Linked DNA regions of Homo sapiens. The protein of the gene in region 4 purifies or fractionates together with the protein of the main gene of each other region. This does not show direct contact. Each region holds a gene or a part of one and is shown on either strand. Other genes may lie near its edges.

Evidence for each region.
Region 1: the proteins of PCDH20 (region 4) and MAP7D3 purify together in Homo sapiens (co-immunoprecipitation; 3 studies listed by BioGRID and IntAct, with this or other methods). This does not show direct contact.
Region 2: the proteins of PCDH20 (region 4) and CELSR2 purify together in Homo sapiens (co-immunoprecipitation; 3 studies listed by BioGRID and IntAct, with this or other methods). This does not show direct contact.
Region 3: the proteins of PCDH20 (region 4) and ITGA7 purify together in Homo sapiens (affinity purification with mass spectrometry; 2 studies listed by BioGRID and IntAct, with this or other methods). This does not show direct contact.

The regions. Positions count from the first base shown.
Region 1 is NC_000023.11:136,241,401-136,248,435, reverse strand, and holds part of MAP7D3 (MAP7 domain-containing protein 3), read left to right. Parts: intron 1-2,094; coding exon 2,095-2,193; intron 2,194-2,287; coding exon 2,288-2,371; intron 2,372-3,640; coding exon 3,641-3,804; intron 3,805-7,035. UniProt on the Homo sapiens protein: Promotes the assembly and stability of microtubules.
Region 2 is NC_000001.11:109,259,511-109,266,545, forward strand, and holds part of CELSR2 (cadherin EGF LAG seven-pass G-type receptor 2 precursor), read left to right. Parts: intron 1-1,531; coding exon 1,532-1,754; intron 1,755-2,002; coding exon 2,003-2,118; intron 2,119-2,297; coding exon 2,298-2,386; intron 2,387-2,776; coding exon 2,777-2,934; intron 2,935-3,295; coding exon 3,296-3,459; intron 3,460-3,631; coding exon 3,632-3,757; intron 3,758-4,100; coding exon 4,101-4,267; intron 4,268-4,567; coding exon 4,568-4,855; intron 4,856-4,943; coding exon 4,944-5,118; intron 5,119-5,357; coding exon 5,358-5,499; intron 5,500-5,680; coding exon 5,681-5,801; intron 5,802-6,224; coding exon 6,225-6,408; intron 6,409-6,594; coding exon 6,595-6,696; intron 6,697-7,035. UniProt on the Homo sapiens protein: Receptor that may have an important role in cell/cell signaling during nervous system formation.
Region 3 is NC_000012.12:55,684,041-55,690,912, forward strand, and holds the end of ITGA7 (integrin alpha-7 isoform 2 precursor), read right to left. Parts: intron 4,918-6,872; coding exon 4,804-4,917; intron 4,261-4,803; coding exon 4,162-4,260; intron 4,057-4,161; coding exon 3,931-4,056; intron 2,275-3,930; coding exon of another isoform or gene 2,162-2,274; intron 1,249-2,161; coding exon 1,018-1,248; 3' UTR 528-1,017; downstream 1-527. Other genes in the region: thiol S-methyltransferase TMT1B precursor, read left to right, coding at 1-9. UniProt on the Homo sapiens protein: Integrin alpha-7/beta-1 is the primary laminin receptor on skeletal myoblasts and adult myofibers.
Region 4 is NC_000013.11:61,409,182-61,412,881, reverse strand, and holds the end of PCDH20 (protocadherin-20 precursor), read left to right. Parts: coding exon 1-1,639; 3' UTR 1,640-3,197; downstream 3,198-3,700. UniProt on the Homo sapiens protein: Potential calcium-dependent cell-adhesion protein.

The DNA.
Region 1 (7,035 bases), on a different chromosome or scaffold from region 4:
TTTATTATATCCAGACATAAAGGTGTTATCCCATTTTCTGGACATTTTAAATAATTTTTAAACCCTGTCCTTTCTGTTAATGTATTTCTTACCAGTAGGAATTTGGATACAAAGGTCTAAAAATCAGATTTGATACTACTACCACATTAACCTTTATATGATTCGGTTCATTATTCTCACCACAGCTACTTCTAAGGTTATTTCTGTTTAATAAGATTTTTAATTAGCCTGGTAAAAGTATACTTTTTTTGAGACAGGGTTGCCCAGGCTGGAGTGCAGTGGGATGCTAAAGGCTCACTGCAGCCTCAAACTCTTGGGCTCAGCCTCCTGAGTAGCTGAGACTACAGGCATGCACCACCACACCCAGCTAATTTTTGTATTTTTAGAGATGGGAGTTTGCCATGTTGGCCAGGCTGGTTCCAAACTCCTGACCTCAAGTGATCCACTTGCCTTGGCCTCCCAAAGTGCTGGGATTACAGGCATGAGCCACCACTCTGGGCCAAAAATGTAGATTTTGAGGGAAATTATCAGCTAAATAGTGTCAAATACGGACTATCCTTGGGACTTCTAAGCAGGAGAACTGAATGTGTAAAAACAATACTACAAGTACTTTATTGTTTTCTCTGCACTCACATAAAAATGTTGCAAGTGGGTATATAGGAGTGTCTATAGACCAAGAATTTTTGTTAATATACTAGTGCTCAAATTCAGAAAATAATTGTGGTCCATGGAATTGCCAGTACTTAAATTATTAAGGAAGCTGAGAAGAGTCTAATCCTCAAATTAAGCTAGGTCATATATTATCTGGGCTGTTCGGCCTCTGGGGTAAAAAAAAAAAAAAAAAATGGTGATCCTTACGGCAGCAATTGTGATGTCATTTTCAAGATTATGCTGTAAAATAACTCCCTCAGTAGCAATTAACACCTCAGAGTTCATTCATTTTATAAGTCCAAGGACAGCCCCTCTATTCCCTCAGTTACTTTAACTGCCCATCTTCAACTGTTACATTTTTCTCAATACATAGAAACCAGACTTGTATGCAGCATCACAGGGGCTTACTTCCTGTGCTTTTCTACAAAAGAAGAACAGAGTTAGTTTTCAGTGTTATTTTCAATACTCTTTCTGAAGATGCTCAGTATTGTGGGACATTTTAGATATAGCCATGTGTGGAATTAAAGGGTTCAGGGATTCCCCTATAATAACTCATGTGTGTCATCCTGGAATTTTAGTTTTCTTACTTTTCCTCATACTGTGCTTTCCTAATCTTACACTTCACCCTTATTGAAGTTTATCACTTTTCTGCCTGTTTACACGTTTGTTTGCACCTTGTATAATTTATATTTGTTTGCTTGACATCTACCTAGAATGATACCATCTCATTGGAGATTACTTCTTCTAAAAGAATATTTATTTCTCCACCTTCAATATGCATCAGAATAGAGCTCAACAATTGTAGATGCCTGGGCCCCACAGCCAGAGACTGGTGATGGGGAGCGGGCAGGCAGGCATTGCTGATTTTCTAAAAGTGAGTTAGGTGATTCCAGTGTGCAACCAGGATAGAAAGCCCCTAATTTAGGTAATTTATAAATGTACTCCTTAACATTGGTTGGGCCTGATCTTTCACTGAGTATTTCACTGTTAACACTTTGCTTCCCAATTCAGATCCATAAATTCTTAACCTGTTATCTTCTGAATTCCCAATTTATGGTGAAACTTAATTTTCCCAATTCCTCGCCAGCTCAGTATTTCTAACACTTGGTGTAATGTTTTGTTTGAGACATTTTTAAAACCTATTAATCATTGGCTCCTACTCATCCACAAACTTATGCTGCCACCGCCACTAACAACTCAATTATCTTTATGTCTACAAATACCCTGGCCCATCATAGTAAACACTTTAAATTCTTTGTTAAAGTGTTGTTGAAGATCATAGGTGTTCAATATATCTTTGTTGTTGACCCAGATGAAATCAGTCATGATTTATAGAAGTGATCCTATCCTTTATCATCAAATACAATTGGCCGTGGTTTGCTGACTCCTGTGTTAGCTATCCGTATTCTTAACATCTAATCCTTTTATCTCCCTGTATTTTAGTTGCTGCAGCAAACGAGATTGCTAAGGAAAGGAGGAAGCAAGATGTGGTTAATCGTGTTGCAACCCATTCCTCAAATATAAGATCGACATTTAAACCAGGTATAATTTCTCTGATGCTTTGATAGATGTCAAAGTGTCATATCTTTAAAATTTGATATCCTATTAATATCTAACTATATTCTTTTTTTTTTAGTAATCGATGGATCCATGCTTAAAAATGACATAAAACAAAGATTAGCAAGAGAGCGCAGAGAGGAGAAAAGGAGACAGCAAGACGGTATATTTTAGACCTTTTTTCAAAAATCAAAATGAATTGTGTTATATATTGCAAAGTGTTTTTAACTTATTCCTCCTAATTTGTTTATATGATAGAGTATAATTTTTATATTATGTATTATTTTGGATTAAATCCTTTTACTAAATCAGGCAAGAAGGCCCATGAAAATTCTTTGATTAAATTGTTTAATTTTTGAAGGAGTAGTTTATCTTAGCTTTGATTTTCTGAAAACTAAGGTCTGGAAATTTCTTCAATATTTGTAAAAACAATCAGAATGGGATTTCAGTAAAAGTGATTCTTTTTTTTTTGTTTTGTTTTGAGGCGGAGTCTTACTCTGTCACCCAAGCTGGAGTTCAGTGGCGCGATCTCAGCTCACTGCAGCCTCCGCCTCCCGGGTTCATGCCATTCTCCTGCCTCAGCCTCCCGAGTAACTGGGACTACAGTCACCCGCCACCACACCCGGCTAATTTTTTGTATTTTTGGTAGAGACGGGGTTTCATCGTGTTAGCCCGGGTGGTCTTGATCTCCTGACCTCGTGATCCACCCACCTCGGCCTTCCAAAGTGCTGGGATTACAGGCGTGAGCCACCGCGCCTGGCCAGTAAAAGTTATTCTAAAAATGAAAATAAATTGCCAATAATCCTAACATAGATAAGATGAAAAGCATGTTACCAAGTTGTAAAAAGATTATCCTTTTAGATCCTAATTTATACAGAGTCACACTTCAGAAGCATTTAGTGAGGGAAAATTTGAATATAGGAAAAATTTTGCTCTCCTGTAATATGGTATATGGTTAAGTCCATTAATGTAAAACTGGCATGTTTAATATGGTCTGTATAGATGAGGACTTTGAAAGAAGTTTCCTAGTAGAAGGGAACAAAACATGTATCCTGGCCATGCAGTTTTTAATAATTAGTATTTTAATGTACAGCATATTAATATGGTAGGGTTTGACTTTAGCTCAAATCAGCAGAAATATCACATGAAAGAAAATATTTTTTCTTAATTTGGAATTGTAGTTTGGACAGGATGAGAGTCATTTGGCACAGACAATCCAGTTCTCCAGAGTTAAATGAATACTCAGTGAAAATGGTTCTGCAGTGGCTACCTCTGTTCACTTTTATAATAAATCTTTAGTTACTAGCACAGGTTGTGTTATTTTAAGAAAGTGAATGAGATGTGTTAACTTTTTCCTTCTGTGTGTGTAATGTGGAAAACCTAAATATTTTCTTGGCTCTTACACCTTGAAAATGTATTTGGAATATTTCAGCCAATAAAGAAACACAACTACTTGAAAAAGAAAGAAAGACCAAGCTCCAATATGAAAAACAGATGGAGGAAAGACAGAGAAAGCTGAAGGAGCGAAAAGAGAAAGAAGAACAACGGAGAATAGCTGCAGAAGAAAAAAGACACCAGAAGGATGAAGCACAAAAGGTACATAATTTTGCAGCCTGTGCATGAGAGGATAAACTGTGTTGCCTGAGTCTAGAATATTGTTTTCTCAGGCCTTCTCTGCCTTACTTGCCCTGTAGAAAGGGAACCAATCCCAGCTCTTTCTTCTTCGCTTCCTCTTCCCCTCAGCATTATATAGGCTTTTACCCATGTCCTGATAAGATGCCAGGAGCTGAGACCCACTAGCCTAGGGAATGGGGAGACTTCCAAATCCAGGAACAAAGCCCCATCCACCTTCAGGACTTGGCACATGAGGTACCTGTGGCCTGGGGTTTGTTCTGAGTGGCTCTGTTTACTACCAAAAAGTATTCACTGTTGTCTCATTGCCTACAGAATAGGGGCAGACCCCACTGTCTGACCCTCCCTGACGTGCCCTCATCTGACCGATTTCTCACAACTCCTTTAAAAGTGTGACTCCCCAGCCAAATCAGGGCATTCGCTCTCCTTTTCAGCTTCCCTGGCTCCCTCTGGTGCACACTCACACTCTCTCCCTCTCTACCCTCTGTCTCCGTGTTCCTCACATTCCCTTTCCTGACAGGGCCCCTCTGGATGTGTGGTTCAGAGTCAGCATTCTTGCTCTTGTTTTGTGGCACTGCTCCTCTCTTTTCCTTTCTGGATTCTCTTTTGGTGTCTTTGGCACTCTGTTGGGATGAGTCTGTGGCTTTGTTATGCCCTCTCTTTTTCACTTCTGTCTTTCTTCAGTTTGTCTTTTGTGGTACTGGGCATCTGGCTACCTGTCTCATTCCGTATGATTCTCTCTGACACCAAATTTTTCTCTTGTAGGTCATTTCACTACTTGACTTGGAGTATGCTTCACTCCTTCTGAATCTAGCGTGGTCGCTGTGACACTGTCCTCTATCTTCCTGGCATTCTCTCTTTCTCTTTATTCCAGGGATTTTTTTTTTTTCTTTGAGACAGAGTCTCACTCTGTCGCCCAGGCTGGAGTATAGTGGCGTGATCTTGGCTCACTGCAACTTCTGCCCCCCCGGTTCAAGCAATTCTCCTACCTCAGCCTCCCAAGTAGCTGGGATTGCAGGCGCCTACCGCCACGCCTGGCTAATTTTTGTGTTTTTAGTAGAGATGGGGGTTCACTATCTTGGCCAGGCTGGTCTTGAACTCCTGACCTCGTGATCCACCCTCCTTGGCCTCCCAAAGTGCTGGGATTACAGGCGTGAGCCACTGTGCCCAGCCTATTATAGGGATTCTTAAGTGTCCCTAAATAAGCCTTAGTCTGTCTTTTGGTCTCTGACTCTGGCCTTTTTCTGCCTGAGGCAGCTTGATTTTCTTTATTCTGTCTTTGTCTTAGCTTCTGTCTGTTTTTCCCCATCTTTATATCCTCTGCCTGCCATTCTCTCAGTGTGTTGTATTTTTATTTCCCTCTCTTATTTTCTGTCACTCTAATATTTGCATTTCTTTTTCTCTCCTTTTCTCTTTGGTTCCATTTCTCCCATGAAGCTTCCTCTTGTCTTTCTCTGCGGTGCTCAGTTTCCTCCCTCCTCATCCATACCTTTGCTCTTGTACGTGCTTCCTCTCCAGCCCTGCACCCTATCTGGAGAGCTTCCTGATTCTAGGACACTTCTTGTGCCACTTTTTCCCCATCCATGGTGTACTATATCTCTCCCTTTCTGAACCCTTTTCTGTGGTTGTTTATGCTCTGTTTCATGCTCTAGTATTTGGTAGACTCTCATTCAGAATTTCTGTCACTTTCCATCATCTTCTTGAAACATCTCTCTTATTTTACTTTTCTGTGGTAAAGAGATGAAGGCCAGAGAAAGAGAGAGAATGAACTAAGTAATGATAAACGAAGAAAGAACCAAGAACTAAGTAAAGAACCAAAGAAAGTGAAATACAAACTGTGTGTAGAGTGAGTGGGAGTCCATGGAGGAGAGAGACAAGTCACAGGGACTGAGACCAAAAAATAAAGACTATCTTAGAGAAAGAGGAAGCTGCCAGAGAGAACACAGAGAATAGAAGAGAATGCAGCAAAATGACACTGCAGACAGAAAGGGAGCCACAGACATGGCAGGAGAAGGGGCAAAAGAAAACCCCAGATAGCTAGTGCGGGAGAGTCCCAGACAGAACAGGGGACATGGGACACTGTAAGTAGGCTACATATAGCAAAAGAGAGGAATTCTGGAGAGCAGAAAAAAAAAACCCAGACTCAGTGGTGCTGAGGAGGGATGAGTGTGGACAGGAGGTGTATATGAAATGGGATAGGAACTTCTATGTGAGCCCTGGGTGGCCACGATGTGAGAAGGGACCTGGAAGAGAGCACAGTAGGTAATGCATTTGGAAACAGTGGAATAGAATCAGAAATAGTTTAATAATACAAAGTTAATCTTTGTTTTTAGTCTATTATAGTTTCAGGGTTTCTAAGTAATTCAGAACAACTGCCTTTCTGTTAGAAAATATAATTTTCAAATGTTGCCCATTGTATCAACTTTATTTTAAGAATTGCGGTTGCTTTTCTTCTCAGAAGATATGGCTCATCTCCATTTTCCTAGTACGTTTATCTTTGCCATTGGTAGAAACAGTAGAGGCTTTGTAAGGATGGTGTTTGCTATGAAACGGTTGTTGTTAGGGAAAAATAGAAGATCTCTGGTCCTAAAAGTTGATTTGCTTACCTGAGTTCATGGTATGGCACAGTACAAGGATGAGAAATATTTGAGAGAAGAGCTCATTTCTGGAAGTGGAGTTGTTTTGCTGCAGCATGGTATTTACTTTGTATAGCTGTTGTCTTGACCAGCTAAAGTTGAGGTCAAGACAAATATATTGATTATCTTTTTTGAAACTTTATTTTTATTAGTTAACACCAGAATTTTAGCTGTTACAGATGTGAGTATACTAGATGATTCTGGTATAAATTTAACTTATATGTGTGCTGATTTTTCCCCTGCCTCATTCTACAAAGAATTTAAGGTGACTTAAAAATACATACCACACCAGATGATAAAAATAAATGGTTGGGGGAATCAAGCAGAGGGGAAAACTAACATAGGCAAATAAAACATAAGGTATGATTAGCATGCACAAAAGTATACCAATCAGTCTTTGTACAGTTGCTAGAAAGAGGCTACACATTTGGCTCTAAATTTCCTAATGATACAAACAAAGAGGAAAGCATGGTCATTTTCTTAATGCAAGGTCCATAAGATAAAAAAAAATGAGTTATTTAGGAGAAGCACTGGTATTGATTGATAGCTGAGACATATC
Region 2 (7,035 bases), on a different chromosome or scaffold from region 4:
TGTTGGCCTTGATTTAAGGGAACGCTGAGATTGGGTGACTTGCTCCTGGTCTCATCACACCCGGTTTAGAGGTGAGGCTGGGCCTAGAACCTGGTCTCTCCCCCACTGAGCGAGTTCCTTTTCTGAGCTGCAGCAAGTACTTTTCTCCCCAGGCATTAAGGGGAAGACACAGAAGAGCTGGGGGAACTGGAGGGGGTTGAGTTCTGAGATGGGGTGCTCCAGAAAACCATTGCACCTGTATGGGCCTGGGCAGAATGGCTCCGCCTCCGCCCAGCTGCTGGTAAAAGAGGATCCTGGCTAGGCGGCTTCCCTGTTGGCCTGTCAGCCAAGGTCTTTACACATCCTGCTCCCTGGGATGCTCACTGTCTCTGCTCTATGCTCCTGACCCCTCCCTTCAGGCTCCTGTGTCTTCTCAGGACACCCCCTGCTCCCCTTCCCTGTGGGCCTTTCCTTCCTAGATGCCCAGGCCCTGCTCCTTGTCCTCCAGGGCCATGCCCACTGGCTCTGCCAGCAGCCATAGGCAGGCCCCACTCCTTCCCCGCTGCATCTTCCTGCCCAGAACTTGCCAGACTTGACTTCTCTCTGCTGCTGCTAGGGGTGGGGGGAAGGGGAGGGACGGGCTTGGGGGAGGGGAGAGAAGTCTTTGTCCAGGAGGATGGTGGGGGGGGTTGGGAGGGGGGGGGTTAGAGCAGGCGAACAACAGTTTCCATGGAAACAAGAGCCAGTCACTAGGCACAGGAGCTGAGAACCTATCTCTAGAATCTGGGAATGGGGAGGGAGAGAAGGGTGGATTTTCCCATCTGATGTTGGAGTTTTCAGCTCCTCTGTTGAATTCTTGTCTGCTCTCAGGGCTCAGTTTCCCACTCTCAGCATGTCCCAGGTGCACAGAGGTCCTTAGTCTGGACCGCAGGGCTCAAGGTGGGAGTCCTCTGCCCCATTCCTGGGGGCTCCCCAGCTTCTCTCTCATACTCTTCCATAACCCAGACAAATCTAAGTGGAAGCCTGGTCCCATCCCCAGGGAGGGAAACTGATCTCAGTGCCTGAGAGGGACAAAAGCACCAGTGGGAAGGAGGGAGGAGGGAGGCTCCCAGCCCTCCCGCTGTCCTGCAGGCCCATCTGCTTGTGCACATTTACCCTCTTGGGGGCCAGGACACCCCCAGGTGTGCTTGGTAGTGTGACATCGAAGGCTCCCGGGATCCGGGCCTTACAACCAAGTGTCCCAGCAGGCCTGTGCTTATGAAACCCAAATGGGGTAGGGAAGGTGCTGGGGACTCCGAGGAACTTGCAGGGGAGCAGTGCGTGGAGCTGTGGCGAGAGCGGCTCAGTGAGCCAAACAGGGTGCCCATGAAGGGCTGGGGACCATAGGTCTCAGAGAAGATGGCACACGAGAGGAAGTGGGGATGCCTGGGAGGTTTGGGGAGTATTACGAGGGTCACGGGAGGCCATGGGAGCTATCACTGGGTTGTGGGGGGTCTCAGTTCCCCTCCTGTCCTCAGGTACTTGGTACTCACCTGCCTTTCCTCTTGTCCAGGTGAGCACTGTGAGGTGAGTGCTCGCTCAGGCCGTTGCACCCCGGGTGTCTGCAAGAATGGGGGCACCTGTGTCAACCTGCTGGTGGGCGGTTTCAAGTGCGATTGCCCATCTGGAGACTTCGAGAAGCCCTACTGCCAGGTGACCACGCGCAGCTTCCCCGCCCACTCCTTCATCACCTTTCGCGGCCTGCGCCAGCGTTTCCACTTCACCCTGGCCCTCTCGTGAGTGGCTGGGCACTGGGGGTGGGGAGTGGGCCTGGTGGGCATCTGAGGTGCCTCCTGTTCTGTGGTTGAAGTAAGAGGTCAGGCAGTGAAAGCGTGGAGCAGGCTGCCGGCAGAGCCAGGTCTGCTCTTGGAGTTGCCTGTGGTTCTGCCAGCAGATCTCCCTCCCCTGCGCTGGTTAGGTGGCGGGGGTGCTGGCATCCAGGTGGGTACCCCATTCCCTGCCCCCATCCCCAACTCCTGTTCAGGTTTGCCACAAAGGAGCGCGACGGGTTGCTGTTGTACAATGGGCGTTTCAATGAGAAGCATGACTTTGTGGCCCTCGAGGTGATCCAGGAGCAGGTCCAGCTCACCTTCTCTGCAGGTGATCACAGTTGCCCCCCATCCTTGCCCATCTTCCAAAGGCCCCAAGTCTTCCAGCCCCTGACCCCAAGCCACATACTCTATCAGCCAAATCTGGGCCCAGCCCCAGCCACTGGCACCCCAAACCCTGCCATTCCTAGCCCTCGTCAGGCATTCCAGCTCACCTGGTCCTTTCCCCAGGGGAGTCAACCACCACGGTGTCCCCATTCGTGCCCGGAGGAGTCAGTGATGGCCAGTGGCATACGGTGCAGCTGAAATACTACAATAAGGTGGGTGTGGAGGGCACAGAGGGTTGGGGGTTCTGTTCTTGCCTCAGGTGCTTACCCAGCCCTGAGTGGCATTGCCTCCAGGCTTGGGTGGGCTGGTCAGGGCATTTCTGGCTGAGAGGAAGGGAGCGGCTGGGAAGGTGCCACCTTGCTGGGCATTCCCACCCCACTGGGCACTGCTCGATGCTCTCTGTTCCACTAGGCAGCCGCAAACTTGGACACTGAGGAAGGTAGTTACATGCATAAACCACGTGAGCACACGTGTGTGTATATGCATGTGTGTACGTGTGTCTGGGCATGTGGGTGCACACAGAGGCACCCAGTGTGTGCTGGCCATGAACCTAGTGGGCTCTGTACTCAGTGTCCCCCTTCTCTGCTCTTTCCTGTCCACAGCCACTGTTGGGTCAGACAGGGCTCCCACAGGGCCCATCAGAGCAGAAGGTGGCTGTGGTGACCGTGGATGGCTGTGACACAGGAGTGGCCTTGCGCTTCGGATCTGTCCTGGGCAACTACTCCTGTGCTGCCCAGGGCACCCAGGGTGGCAGCAAGAAGTGAGCAGGGGAAAGGGCCAGGGATGGGGTGAAGTGAGGGCAGGGCCAGGCAGGGAGGGAAGGTGGAGAGGGTGGGCTTTTGGGGTCTCTCTCCCTTTGCCTCTCTTAGCCCCTGCTCAGCCCTGGGGATGGGGTCAAGACTGGGGAATCAGAGCAAGGCCCTGTGGGGCAGTCTGGGGAGGGGGCTGAGTGTTCGACAAGAACAGTTCCAGGTAGGGGTGACGCCCTTCCTGAGCACTGCTCTGCAGGGCCTCTTGGACACCTGCCTACGCCGTTCGTGTCTCTGGCCTGGCGGCAGAGCGAGCGGAGGACCAGAAGCTCCCAGCCCTCCCTTGTGCCGCCACCATCTTTGCTCCCCCAGGTCTCTGGATCTGACGGGGCCCCTGCTACTAGGCGGGGTGCCTGACCTGCCCGAGAGCTTCCCAGTCCGAATGCGGCAGTTCGTGGGCTGCATGCGGAACCTGCAGGTGGACAGCCGGCACATAGACATGGCTGACTTCATTGCCAACAATGGCACCGTGCCTGGTATGGGGGCCCGGGGTGGAGCCAGGCTGGGATCCCAGTGCTGAGAGGAGGGGCTGTGCCTGGTGTGAGGATGCCAGAATGGAGGGTCTCAGAGGCCTCTCTAACTGCTGCCACAGGCTTTCTCTTTAGAGCCCCAGCTCAGGTCCACTGAGCTGCCTTCTCTCCATTCCAGGCTGCCCTGCCAAGAAGAACGTGTGTGACAGCAACACTTGCCACAATGGGGGCACTTGCGTGAACCAGTGGGACGCGTTCAGCTGCGAGTGCCCCCTGGGCTTTGGGGGCAAGAGCTGCGCCCAGGGTAGGAGGGGCGGCTGTTAGAGGCCACAGCCTGGGTGCCATCAACAGTCTGGGAACTGGCAGGGTTGGGGCAGGCACTGGGCAGGGCTCTGCTGAGCGGGGCTGTGGGTGGAAAAGCGTGTCTGGGCAGAGCCCTGAAAGGGCAACACAGGAGACAAAGGGGCCAGTCAGAGGCAGGCCTGGGCACAGCGTGGGGCGGTCCCAGGGCAGGTACGCACTTTGGAGGGCGGGGCTGATGAGGGGAGTGGGCTCTGCCTCCCGTGCAGCCGCCACCGCTGAGCATCACAGCCCCAGGGCCCTCTGAGGCTCCACCCGTCACAGTCTGCCTTTTCCTGCCTCCCCAGAAATGGCCAATCCACAGCACTTCCTGGGCAGCAGCCTGGTGGCCTGGCATGGCCTCTCGCTGCCCATCTCCCAACCCTGGTACCTCAGCCTCATGTTCCGCACGCGCCAGGCCGACGGTGTCCTGCTGCAGGCCATCACCAGGGGGCGCAGCACCATCACCCTACAGGTGATGCATGGAAGGGCGGCTGGCCCTGGCCTGGCCATAGGGCCCTGGTAGCCTCTAGGCGGCTGGACAGAAGTGGCTGGGCAGGTCCTGGGCAGGGGTGGGGACATATAGAGGCCGCTGGATCCGTTGGGAAGGTCAATGCTGCCACCTGTTGGGCCTGAGGGAAATAAATACGCTTTCCTCTCTATGGCCTCAGCTGGGCAGCGGGATGGGTTTGATGGTCCAGAAAGGGGAACTGTGAGCTGGAGAACAGTGATTAAGGCCGTCTGCTGACCCTGTTTTCTTTCCTCCTGGTGTCAGCTACGAGAGGGCCACGTGATGCTGAGCGTGGAGGGCACAGGGCTTCAGGCCTCCTCTCTCCGTCTGGAGCCAGGCCGGGCCAATGACGGTGACTGGCACCATGCACAGCTGGCACTGGGAGCCAGCGGGGGGCCCGGCCATGCCATTCTGTCCTTCGATTATGGGCAGCAGAGAGCAGAGGGCAACCTGGGCCCCCGGCTGCATGGTCTGCACCTGAGCAACATAACAGTGGGCGGAATACCTGGGCCAGCCGGCGGTGTGGCCCGTGGCTTTCGGGGCTGTTTGCAGGTGAGTGTCCTGCCCTGCCCTCCCATCCCCTCCCCCACCACCTGCAGCCCCGCTCCACTGAGGGCAACACTGCTCCTGTCCCTCCCAGGGTGTGCGGGTGAGCGATACGCCGGAGGGGGTTAACAGCCTGGATCCCAGCCATGGGGAGAGCATCAACGTGGAGCAAGGCTGTAGCCTGCCTGACCCTTGTGACTCAAACCCGTGTCCTGCTAACAGCTATTGCAGCAACGACTGGGACAGCTATTCCTGCAGCTGTGATCCAGGTATGCTAAGGATCCAGGGCAACGGGCAGGTTATCAGGTGCCTGGGGCCACATGCTGGCTCTGCTGTGTGACCTGGGGCATGGGGCATCACACCACCTCTCTGAGTCTTAGTTGCCTACACAACAAAGCCATAGCCAGCTGATAGGATGCTATGTGGAAAGAAACAGATGAAGGGTTTGATGGAAGATGGTGCCAGGGGAGGGTGGGGGAATGAGCCTCTCTGGTCCTTCTGGTCCCAGGTTACTATGGTGACAACTGTACTAATGTGTGTGACCTGAACCCGTGTGAGCACCAGTCTGTGTGTACCCGCAAGCCCAGTGCCCCCCATGGCTATACCTGCGAGTGTCCCCCAAATTACCTTGGGCCATACTGTGAGACCAGGTAAGCAGACCAGGGCATGTGGCAGCAGGTCCCAGTGGCTGCTGCTTCTCTCTGGTGTGTCCCTCAGAGCCCCGAAAGCCTGGCTGATCCACAGCCAGGGTCAGAAGGGCCACATAGGGCTCACCTAGGTTAGGTGGGAGTGGCAGGGGGAGCTCATGCCTACCTGGGTCCCTCTCTGCAGGATTGACCAGCCTTGTCCCCGTGGCTGGTGGGGACATCCCACATGTGGCCCATGCAACTGTGATGTCAGCAAAGGCTTTGACCCAGACTGCAACAAGACAAGCGGCGAGTGCCACTGCAAGGTGACAGCCCCAAGCAAGCCTCCACTGTGGCCACTTGGGCCTCTGTCCACATCTCCTGGGCCCTAGAGGGCAGGCTGTAGGGATGGGTCTTCCTGTAGAGCTGAGGGCCTTGTGCCTTTGCTCTCACAGGCAGGGCAGTTGGCTGCTTACCTTCGTGTGTCTGAGGCGCAGGGGGACCCTGGGCCAATGTGTAACCCATGAGCTCTGGCCTGGTGTGGTGGTGGTTTGCAGCCTGTTCTGATTCTGTGACATCTCGCTGATGGGCTCAACTCCAAAGCATTGCTAGTGTTAATTATTTTGAATACTGCTCCTGAGGGGACCTGAGGTCGGGACCCTCTCCACAGGGGCCACAGCTGAGAAGGACCCATGAGCATCCTGGGAAGAGAGCCTGGCCAGTGACACCGTTCTTCCCTCCTTTCTCAGGAGAACCACTACCGGCCCCCAGGCAGCCCCACCTGCCTCTTGTGTGACTGCTACCCCACAGGCTCCTTGTCCAGAGTCTGTGACCCTGAGGATGGCCAGTGTCCATGCAAGCCAGGTGTCATCGGGCGTCAGTGTGACCGCTGTGACAACCCTTTTGCTGAGGTCACCACCAATGGCTGTGAAGGTGGGGCTCCTGGGATGGGTGGGCAGCCCTCCTTACAGTGTGCTAGGCACCTGCACCCCAGGAAAGCCAGGAAGGGGCTGGTTGCAGGCCTGGGGAGGCCTGGGGAGGCCTAGGGAGGGCTGGGGAGCCTGGGCAGGACAGCAGAGGGAGAGCTGCTCCTGGGTGACCATGTGCTCTTCCCCGCAGTGAATTATGACAGCTGCCCACGAGCGATTGAGGCTGGGATCTGGTGGCCCCGTACCCGCTTCGGGCTGCCTGCTGCTGCTCCCTGTCCCAAAGGCTCCTTTGGTAGGTGTTGGAGGCCCCGATGTGATGTCGAGGACATGGCCTCTGCTGTTAGTGGGATGAGGGCAGGAAGCTCCTGGCTGAAGATCCGGGGACCCCACTTTCTGGCCTCCAGGTCCTGGGATTTCATTTCCCATCTTCCTTGGTTCACATTCCCCCTTCCCCATGTTGCCCAGGTGTGCCTACATCTTGGACTGTTTTGTTTTGTTTTGGTTTGGTTTTTTTTCTGGGACAGAGTCTGTCACTGTCACCCAGGCTGGTGTGCAGTGGCGTGATCTCCGCTCGCTGCAACCTCTGCCTCCCAGGTTCAAGCAATTTTCCTGCCTAAGCCTCTGGCCGCCA
Region 3 (6,872 bases), on a different chromosome or scaffold from region 4:
GTCAAATAATCTTTCCCAAGCTCCAAGGCACTCATTTGCTCCTTCCCCAGCCTCCAATTAGAACAAGCCACCCACCAGCCTATCTATCTTCCACTGAGAGGGACCTAGCAGAATGAGAGAAGACATTCATGTACCACCTACTAGTCCCTCTCTCCCCAACCTCTGCCAGGGCAATCTCTAACTTCAATCCCGCCTTCGACAGTGAAAAAGCTCTACTTCTACGCTGACCCAGGGAGGAAACACTAGGACCCTGTTGTATCCTCAACTGCAAGTTTCTGGACTAGTCTCCCAACGTTTGCCTCCCAATGTTGTCCCTTTCCTTCGTTCCCATGGTAAAGCTCCTCTCGCTTTCCTCCTGAGGCTACACCCATGCGTCTCTAGGAACTGGTCACAAAAGTCATGGTGCCTGCATCCCTGCCAAGCCCCCCTGACCCTCTCTCCCCACTACCACCTTCTTCCTGAGCTGGGGGCACCAGGGAGAATCAGAGATGCTGGGGATGCCAGAGCAAGACTCAAAGAGGCAGAGGTTTTGTTCTCAAATATTTTTTAATAAATAGACGAAACCACGAAACCACTAGACTGATGGCAGCAAACTAAGGTCAGATGAGAGGGGAAACTAGAGAAGGAGCAGCCTGAGTCAGTGACACAACCTCCTCCCCGACCCTCTAGGTTAAGGCACTTCCGGGGAGGCAGGTCCTTGGGGTCCTGTTACACAGGGTGAATGGGAGAGGAAGGGATTAGGATCCCTTCTCCCCACCTTTGCATCAGGACACCCCTGCCCTTCTCACCCTACCCCATGGCCCTGTCCCTGATTTACCCACTCTCATCTCACAGCACTCTAAGGGGAAGTTGGGTGGGAGGAGTTCTTGTGGGTGGGAGAGGTCTGTGCCCCTGAGGAAGCCGATCCTGCCAAATCTTGATGCGACACCAGCAGCCCACTCTACCCTCTTCATCCCAAGGAGCCATCTCTGGGGAAGGGATGGAGGGCAGCCACAGGCCAGGCTGGGACATGGGAACCTAGGCGGTGCCTGGCCCTGGATGCCCATCGGGGCCCAGCTCGGGATGCCCGTCAGCAGCCAGGATGGGGTGTGCATCCGGGCCCTCCCGCCGGGGGCTGCCCCAGTTGTTCCTCAGGATGGTGCCCGTCTTCTCCTCCTTGAACTGCTGTCGGTCTTCCCGAGGAATCTTCACCGCATGGTACTGGGGCACGGTGGCCTCGGGGTGCTTCGCCCGTTTGAAGAATCCCATCTATAAGGACACCAGGCCAGACCATGAGGAGCCTGAAGAGCTGCGGTCCCTGGAGCAGATGCCTAGCGCGGCACAGCTCCTCACCCTCACCATCCCTGCTGCGGCAGAAAGGAAATAGGCTGAATAGCATCTGGTGTGGTGGGCAGCACCCACGGTGCTCCCATCAGTGCTGTGTCCCCAGGTTCTCATTCACAGCAAGAGAGAGACCAGAAGGGCGTCCAAGAGGCAGGACCAAGGGTATCTCCCTTGGCCCCTGAAAGAGGGCCTTGAGGGTGGAGCATCAGGACCGGACTCAAGATTTGTACCCCCTCTAGCTTCTTAAGAGACCCAATAGTGTCCCCCAGAACACAAACAAGACCTGAGGAAGAAAATGGCTTCCTAGTCCCCTGCATCTCTGGAATGATACCTCTCAAGCCTCATAAACATGCACCCCGTGTACTTGTACCTTGGGCGGCACGCCCCTTACAGCAATACCCTCTTGTCCATCAATACAGTAGTCTAGCCCCACCCTAAATGAGGACCATGCTGGCCCTTACACACCAGGGTGGGAATGTGCCCCTGCACACTCACACTCAGAGGCCCAGGACTCCTACATGCTCAGACTGCATGGCATCTCCTTACACATTCATCTCCTTGCACACTCATGCCCATAGAAAAAAGCATGCATGCGACCTCCCCACACTCCCACATGCTCACACCCCATGAGCCCACCAACCCTTTGTGCACGCCTCAGGCTGTGTAGACTTACCCTTATATCTGCACCCTTCTAATTACCTCTCACCTCACATCACTCTCATGCAATCTCATTTTTCACCCTGAACATTCCTGATCCCCTGAATGCTGGGAATTCTCCTTATATTCACACACATACATACCCACACACACTAGACACATGCACACACACAACAGTTACCCCACAGTCCCTGGACCCCCAACTTCCATGGCTGAAGGCTGCACAGCCAGACAGGCCCGGTGATAGTTGGTGGGAAAAGATGAGCTCTGGCTGCTCCGATGGAAGAAGCCACACTAGGATGTCGAGGGAGAAGCAGGGCAGAGGAAGCAGAGGATGGAAAGATTGAGGAAGGACAGGATCCCCTATCTCTGCTCTGTCTTCCTTCCATGGGAGCAGGGAGCAAGCATCCTGGGACCAGTTTCACAGAGGCATCAATCTCCCCTAAGACTGGGAAGGTTCCCAACAGCTTGGATGCCACTCCAGAGCCTGGTCTACTGATGATTCACACTTGCCAAAGGGTGGCTCAGTCTCTGATTGGTCCCAAAGAGCAGGCACAGGCAGGGGCAGTTCTCCAGAGCCCCAAGGACATGTGTGGTTCTGAACATAGCCCCCGATGTGGCAGATGGCTCAGCATATGACCCCGGTGATGTATGTGATTCCGTGTACTGACGTGTGCATGTGCATACTTTTACATTGAGCCCTGGATACCAGTATGATTCGGTATACAGCTCTGGGTGTACAAGAATGCTTCCATGCAGAGCCTGGTATGTGGAAGCTCTGAGTTCCGCCATGAGGGCAGTCCCCTGGAGGCCGTTCTCCGTGCTTGTTGGCCTTCTTGGCCACATTTACCTTTCCAGTTTTCACTGCCACATTCTAGTTAAGTCAGATCACACTTCTCTGCCTCCACGACTTTGCCTACCATGGTCCTGCTGGACCCCACCTACCTCATCCCCTTACATCCTCACCCTACTACCCCACCTTCCTCTGAGGACTGGTTCCAGTGCTACCTCCTCTCAAGCTTTTTTCCCTCTAAACTCCCACTCCATTTTCTCAACTCAACACTTCCTGCCTTGTCCTTGACTACAGGCTCACCACTCCCATCCCACTGGACTATAAAATCCCTGAGAACGAGATCTGCATCTGATTTCTTTTTTTTTTTTTTTTTTTTTTTTTTGAGACAGAGTCCTGCTCAGTCCCCCAGGTTGCAGTGCAGTGGCGCAATCTTGGCTCACTGCAACCTCCACCTCCCGGGTTCAAGCGATTCTCCTGTCTCAGCCTCCCAAGTAGCTGGGATTACAGGCACCCCCCACCATGCCCAGCTAATTTTTTTTATTTGTTTGTATTTTTAACAGAGACAGGATTTCACCATGTTGGCCAGCTTGGTCTTGAACTCCTGACCTCAGGTGATCCACTCACCTCAGCCTCCCAAAGTGCTGGGATTACAGGCATGAGCCACCATGCCCGGCTTTTTTTTTTTTTTTTTTTTTTGAGATGGAGTCTCGCTCTGTCACCCAGGCTGGAGTGCAATGGCGCCATCTCGGCTCACTGCAACCCCACCTTTCGAGTTCAATCGATTCTCCTGCCTCAGCCTCCCAAGTAGCTGGATCTACAGGTGCGTGCCACCACGCCCAGCTAATTTTGTATTTTAAGTAGAGATGGGGTTTCACCATGTTGTCCAGGCTGGTCTCGAACTCCTGACCTCAAGTGATCCACCTGCCTAGGCCTCCCAAAGTGCTGAGATTCCAGGCATGAGCCACTGCACCCAGCCTGCATCTGATTTATCTTTGAAACATCCAGGGACTAATAGAGTTCCTGAGACATGCAGGGCAAGTGTTCAGTGCAGATTTGCTGAATACATGAGTGTGTGGGTGGGTGACAGAACCACAATACAAAATGCTGCTCACCCAACCAGGAAGTCCACCCCCATCAGCCCCACCTCCAAGCCTCACCTTCCACAGGAGCAGCACCAGCAGTGCTAGCACCAGCAGCCCAGCCAGTACAGCCAGGAGGATGACCCACCAGGGCACTCCTTCTGCCACCACAGCCATGGGGTCCAAGTATACCATCACTGGGATCTGGGGAGCAAGGGGTCAATGGAGCAAGAGGTCAATGGAACAAGAACTGGAGGGAGCAGGAAAGAAGAGAGTCCTCCCCACCTATCCCCCAACCCTGCAGCTCACCACTGTGGAGGCATCTCGGAGCATCAAGTTCTTTATGGAGGACTTCACTGTGATGTTGGCCCGGACAATCACTTCCAGGGACTTCACAGCTGAGTACTCCTAAGGGAACAGGGAAGGAGACCCTTCTCCTAAATGCCCCATGTCTCCCTCCCTTCCCCTTACCTCCTGAAATTATAAATGTAATGGTGCCCAACACAGAGGATGTTTCTGCCTGGTTTGGGTTAAGAGTATGCTGCGTTTGGGCTGGGCACAGTGGCTCACACCTGTAATCCCAGCACTTTGGGAGGCCAAGGAGGGTGGATCACCTGAGGTCAGGAGTTTGAGATCAGCCTGGCCAACATGGCAAAACCCCGTCTCTATGAAAAATACAAAAATATCGGGTGTGGTGGCACGTGCCTGTAATCTCAGCTACTCAGGAGGCTGAGGCAGGAGAACCTCTTGAACCTGGGAGGCAGAGGTTGCAGTGAGCTGAGATCGCACCACTGCACTCCAGCCTGGGGGACAAAGGAAGACTCCGTCTCAAAAAAAAAAAAAAGGGGGGGGATGCTGCATTTGGACAGTGAGGAAGGAGGAGGAGAAATGAGTCCTGGAGGGGCTTTGGAGGAAGAAGAAACACAGACTAGAGCCGAGTGGTATCCTCACCTCCAGAAAGGTGCTGTTCCAGAGACGGCCCCAGACATGCAGCACAGCCGCGCGGTCAAAGCTGTAGAGTGGGCAGCTGAACACCACACAGTTGGCCGTGCCCCGGGCGCAGTCCTAGGGATAAGGACAGACAGGGGTCTAAGCCACTCAGCTCAACCCTGCTGAGACTGCCATCTCTCCCATTTTCCTTACTTGACCTCAAACTCCCCTCCTCCAGGAAGTCTTCTCAAACTAATCTTATATCCAAAATAGCTGCCTGCCCCAAATCTGAGCTATTCAGCTTTGAAATGCGTGGAGGGGGCAGCATGGAAGGGAATCTCTTACTTGACAGCACAGGCAGAGTAGCTTCCCCAAGTGATGCTTATGTTACCTAATGACAGTCCCATTTATTGAGCACCTACTACTTGTCAGGCACTTATCTCACTTAAGCTTCGCAATAGTCCTACAAGGTGCACATTATCATCCTCATTTTTCAAAGGAAGAAACTGAGGAGGCCCAAGGAGGCCAAGCGACCTGCCTCAGGTCACAGCACTAGCAAAGCTAATGAGTGGTGGAGCAAATATTTGAACTCAGGTCCATATTCGGCAAAGCCACACCCCTGCCCTAAACCCAAACTCGCTGAAGGAGGAGGAGGTAGCCTCAGGAGCTCCTGGGTAGACAGGGGACTCAGGCTCTGTTCTTTCCAGGACTGACCTAAATCCATTTGGCCCAATCACCACCTCACGACCCATTTGCCTGAAAGTTATGTTATATTCATCACACCACGATCCAGACACAGAAGAATGGCTTTAAGAGTGTCTGAATTATTTGAGTTATCTTTTATTTTGCCACTTTTGAGCCATTCAAGAATCCTTAGCCAAGCTGTCTAAAAGCAAGGCCTTCTGCCTTTTTAGTAAAAGAATCTACTTTAGTACTAGTACCAAAACAGAGATATAGATCAATGGAACAGAACAGAGCCCTCAGAAATAACGCCACATATCTACAACTATCTGATCTTTGACAAACCTGAGAAAAACAACCAGTGGGGAAAGGATTCCCTATTTAATAAATGGTGCTGGGAAAACTGGCTAGCCATATGTAGAAAGCTGAAACTGGATCCCTTCCTAACACCTTATACAAAAATTAATTCAAGATAGATTAAAGACTTAAATGTTAGACATAAACCATAAAAACCCTAGAAGAAAACCTAGGAATTACCATTCAGGACATAGGCATGGGCAAGGACTTCATGTCTAAAACACCAAAAGCAATGGCAACAAAAGCCAAAATTGACAAATGGGATCTAATTAAACTAAAGAGCTTCTGCACAGCAAAAGAAACTATCATCGGAGTGAACAGGCAACCTACAAAATGGGAGAAAATTTTCGCAACCTACTCATCTGACAAAGGGCTAATATCCAGAATCTACAATGAACTCAAACAAATTTACAAGAACAAAACAAACAACCCCATCAAAAAGTGGGCAAAGGACATGAACAGATACTTCTCAAAAGAAGACATTTATGCAGCCAAAAAACACATGAAAAAATGCTCACCATCACTGGCCATCAGAGAAATGCAAATCAAAACCACAATGAGATATCATCTCACACCAGTTAGAATGGCAATCATTAAAAAGTCAGGAAACAACAGGTGCTGGAGAGGATGTGGAGAAATAGGAACACTTTTACACTGTTGGTGGGACTGTAAACTAGTTCAAACCTTGTGGAAGTCAGTGTGGCGATTCCTCAGGGATCTAGAACTAGAAATACCATTTGACCCAGCCATCCCATTACTGGGTATATACCCAAAGGACTATAAATCATGCTGCTATAAAGACACATGCACACGTATGTTTATTGCGGCACTATTCACAATAGCAAAGACTTGGAACCAACCCAAATGTCCAACAATGATAGACTGGATTAAGAAAATGTGGCACATATACACCATGGAATACTATGCAGCCATAAAAAATGATGAGTTCATGTCCTTTGTAGGGACATGGATGAAATTGGAAATCATTCTCACTAAACTATCACAAGAACAAAAAACCAAACACCGCATATTCTCACTCATAGGTGGGAATT
Region 4 (3,700 bases):
CCCTGCTGTAATCACTGCTCTTGTGTCCATTATTAAAGTTATTTTCAGACCCCCTGAAATTGTCCCTCGTTACATAGCAAACGAGATAGATGGTGTGGTTTATCTGAAAGAACTGGAACCCGTTAACACTCCCATTGCGTTTTTCACCATAAGAGATCCAGAAGGTAAATACAAGGTTAACTGCTACCTGGATGGTGAAGGGCCGTTTAGGTTATCACCTTACAAACCATACAATAATGAATATTTACTAGAGACCACAAAACCTATGGACTATGAGCTACAGCAGTTCTATGAAGTAGCTGTGGTGGCTTGGAACTCTGAGGGATTTCATGTCAAAAGGGTCATTAAAGTGCAACTTTTAGATGACAATGATAATGCTCCAATTTTCCTTCAACCCTTAATAGAACTAACCATCGAAGAGAACAACTCACCCAATGCCTTTTTGACTAAGCTGTATGCTACAGATGCCGACAGCGAGGAGAGAGGCCAAGTTTCATATTTTCTGGGACCTGATGCTCCATCATATTTTTCCTTAGACAGTGTCACAGGAATTCTGACAGTTTCTACTCAGCTGGACCGAGAAGAGAAAGAAAAGTACAGATACACTGTCAGAGCTGTTGACTGTGGGAAGCCACCCAGAGAATCAGTAGCCACTGTGGCCCTCACAGTGTTGGATAAAAATGACAACAGTCCTCGGTTTATCAACAAGGACTTCAGCTTTTTTGTGCCTGAAAACTTTCCAGGCTATGGTGAGATTGGAGTAATTAGTGTAACAGATGCTGACGCTGGACGAAATGGATGGGTCGCCCTCTCTGTGGTGAACCAGAGTGATATTTTTGTCATAGATACAGGAAAGGGTATGCTGAGGGCTAAAGTCTCTTTGGACAGAGAGCAGCAAAGCTCCTATACTTTGTGGGTTGAAGCTGTTGATGGGGGTGAGCCTGCCCTCTCCTCTACAGCAAAAATCACAATTCTCCTTCTAGATATCAATGACAACCCTCCTCTTGTTTTGTTTCCTCAGTCTAATATGTCTTATCTGTTAGTACTGCCTTCTACTCTGCCAGGCTCCCCGGTTACAGAAGTCTATGCTGTCGACAAAGACACAGGCATGAATGCTGTCATAGCTTACAGCATCATAGGGAGAAGAGGTCCTAGGCCTGAGTCCTTCAGGATTGACCCTAAAACTGGCAACATTACTTTGGAAGAGGCATTGCTGCAGACAGATTATGGGCTCCATCGCTTACTGGTGAAAGTGAGTGATCATGGTTATCCCGAGCCTCTCCACTCCACAGTCATGGTGAACCTATTTGTCAATGACACTGTCAGTAATGAGAGTTACATTGAGAGTCTTTTAAGAAAAGAACCAGAGATTAATATAGAGGAGAAAGAACCACAAATCTCAATAGAACCGACTCATAGGAAGGTAGAATCTGTGTCTTGTATGCCCACCTTAGTAGCTCTGTCTGTAATAAGCTTGGGTTCCATCACACTGGTCACAGGGATGGGCATATACATCTGTTTAAGGAAAGGGGAAAAGCATCCCAGGGAAGATGAAAATTTGGAAGTACAGATTCCACTGAAAGGAAAAATTGACTTGCATATGCGAGAGAGAAAGCCAATGGATATTTCTAATATTTGATATTTCATGGTGGAATAACACAGAGAAATGTTTTAACTGACTTTGGATCTTCATCACCTAAAAAAGAGTGTGTTGATGGCAGTTCCAATGAAGGACAACTAATTTATAACTTGTTCTATATTGTAAATAGCTGTTTACAGGTTTTTAAATTTAAATTCAGAGGTTATAAAATGTGTACAGCATTTTTAAGTGAAAATTAGTACTAACAGCTATAGGACTTGTATTTAAAAAAAAAAAAAAAGCTTGGACATGGTTTGCAGCTTTCATACACCAAGCAGATGATTGATAAAACCTGGGAGTAAGGTAAGAAAAATGGAACAAATTTTTATCTAAAAATTCCTGTCACCACAAGAGGGCATCAGCTGCTCCTTTGCAGGAAACTGGGGTATTGTACTTGGCAGTTGTACATGAAATTAATGAAAGAGTATATTTTAAATATATTGTTTTTAACATTAAACAAATATGAAATTAAAGTAAATTAAATTTCACCCTATTTAAACATATGATAAAAAAAGAAATGCACTTGTAAACAGAATGTTTATTACCTCATAAGTGCATATATAGTGTGAAAGAGAAGGCATTAAAAAGAAGTGCAATTCCTTTTTAGCAAGGATAAAATCATTGCCTTGTGTTACAGATTCAGCCTGCTGAAGAGTATTCCACTTTCTGTGTACTCGAATTGCTTTCTGTTTGCTTTACCACTGCACTTGTTATTATTACAAGGGAAATAGATTTATACATACATATATATATTCTTCATTACAGGAAATGTAACTAGATATTGTGCCCAAGAAAAACAGCCAGAAGCAAAGAAATGCTTCAATCTTTAGTTGCTTCATAGGCATTCATGACATTTTAGTGCTTTCACAACTTGTTGGTCGTACTTTATACTTGGGTTATATATTAGACTTTTATAGGCTTGAAATCATCCATCACATAAGAAAATAGAAATCATATTAAAAGTGAATTCTTCTAGAGGCTTGTGTACACTACTGGTTGTTTTAGTTGGGCCTTTTATATGAAAGTTATACTGTACTTATCTTTTTGTTGTTGTTTAGGTTTGTTGACTACCATTTCTGGCTTCCTTTCTTTGGTTTTGGATTAAATCCAACAGTTTATTTGTAAGCCCTGCAGCAGATTTCTTTGATAATTTAGCTTTTACTGAATCTCTTGCAATGAAGAAAGCTATTTCATCAGTGATTTATCACTTTCAATTCATTGTGTGAGCTGGAAATATTATTTTATATGAGAGCTATAGCAAAATAATCTGTATAAACAAGGAATGTGTTAGCTTAAACTGGATCATTTTACTTTTTGGCATCATGCATCTGTACTGTACCAAAAGTGTTTATATGTCTGCAAATTAAAGGTATATATTTTCATAATTTCTTTCTCACTTTTAGCATTTTATATTTGAACATGGGCTTGTTATTTCACTGAAGTGCCTGTCATTTGTTTGTTTTTAGGGTTAAATGTGGGTAACCTGTAGTATTCTGCTATACTAAAGTTTATATTAAATGAATTCATTACTCAATTAAACATTGGGTAAATTATTAAATGTGTGTGTAGTTATAGACATATATATAGTAGAAAGAGAGTATGCCTAAATGTTTGATGTAAGTTCATATGAAAATTTGCACCCATGTATGTGCACATGCATATTAATTTATTATAGATTTAATATCATTATAAATTTTCATTTTACTACAGATTTATAACAAATCCTCTGTTAGCTGTGTTGCAATAGCTTGCAATAATTTTTAAAACAAAAATACTCTACAAAAAAGACATTGAATGCAAACAACCAAGTTCTTTTAGATTTGTATTAATTAACTCATTTATCTTATTTTTCTTCAATTTGAGAATTTCAATAAATAAAATAATAAGTATATGAGGCAGCAATGTTTGTTACAAAAAGTAAATATATTTTTATTGGAAATTCCTTTTGTACGAGAGGCATCTGAGCTAAGAGACTAAGATCATTTAACCCCCAAAACTTTTCATTTATAACTGATATGTAGCAATGGAGGAAACATCTCTTACTAGTCATATTTTATTTCT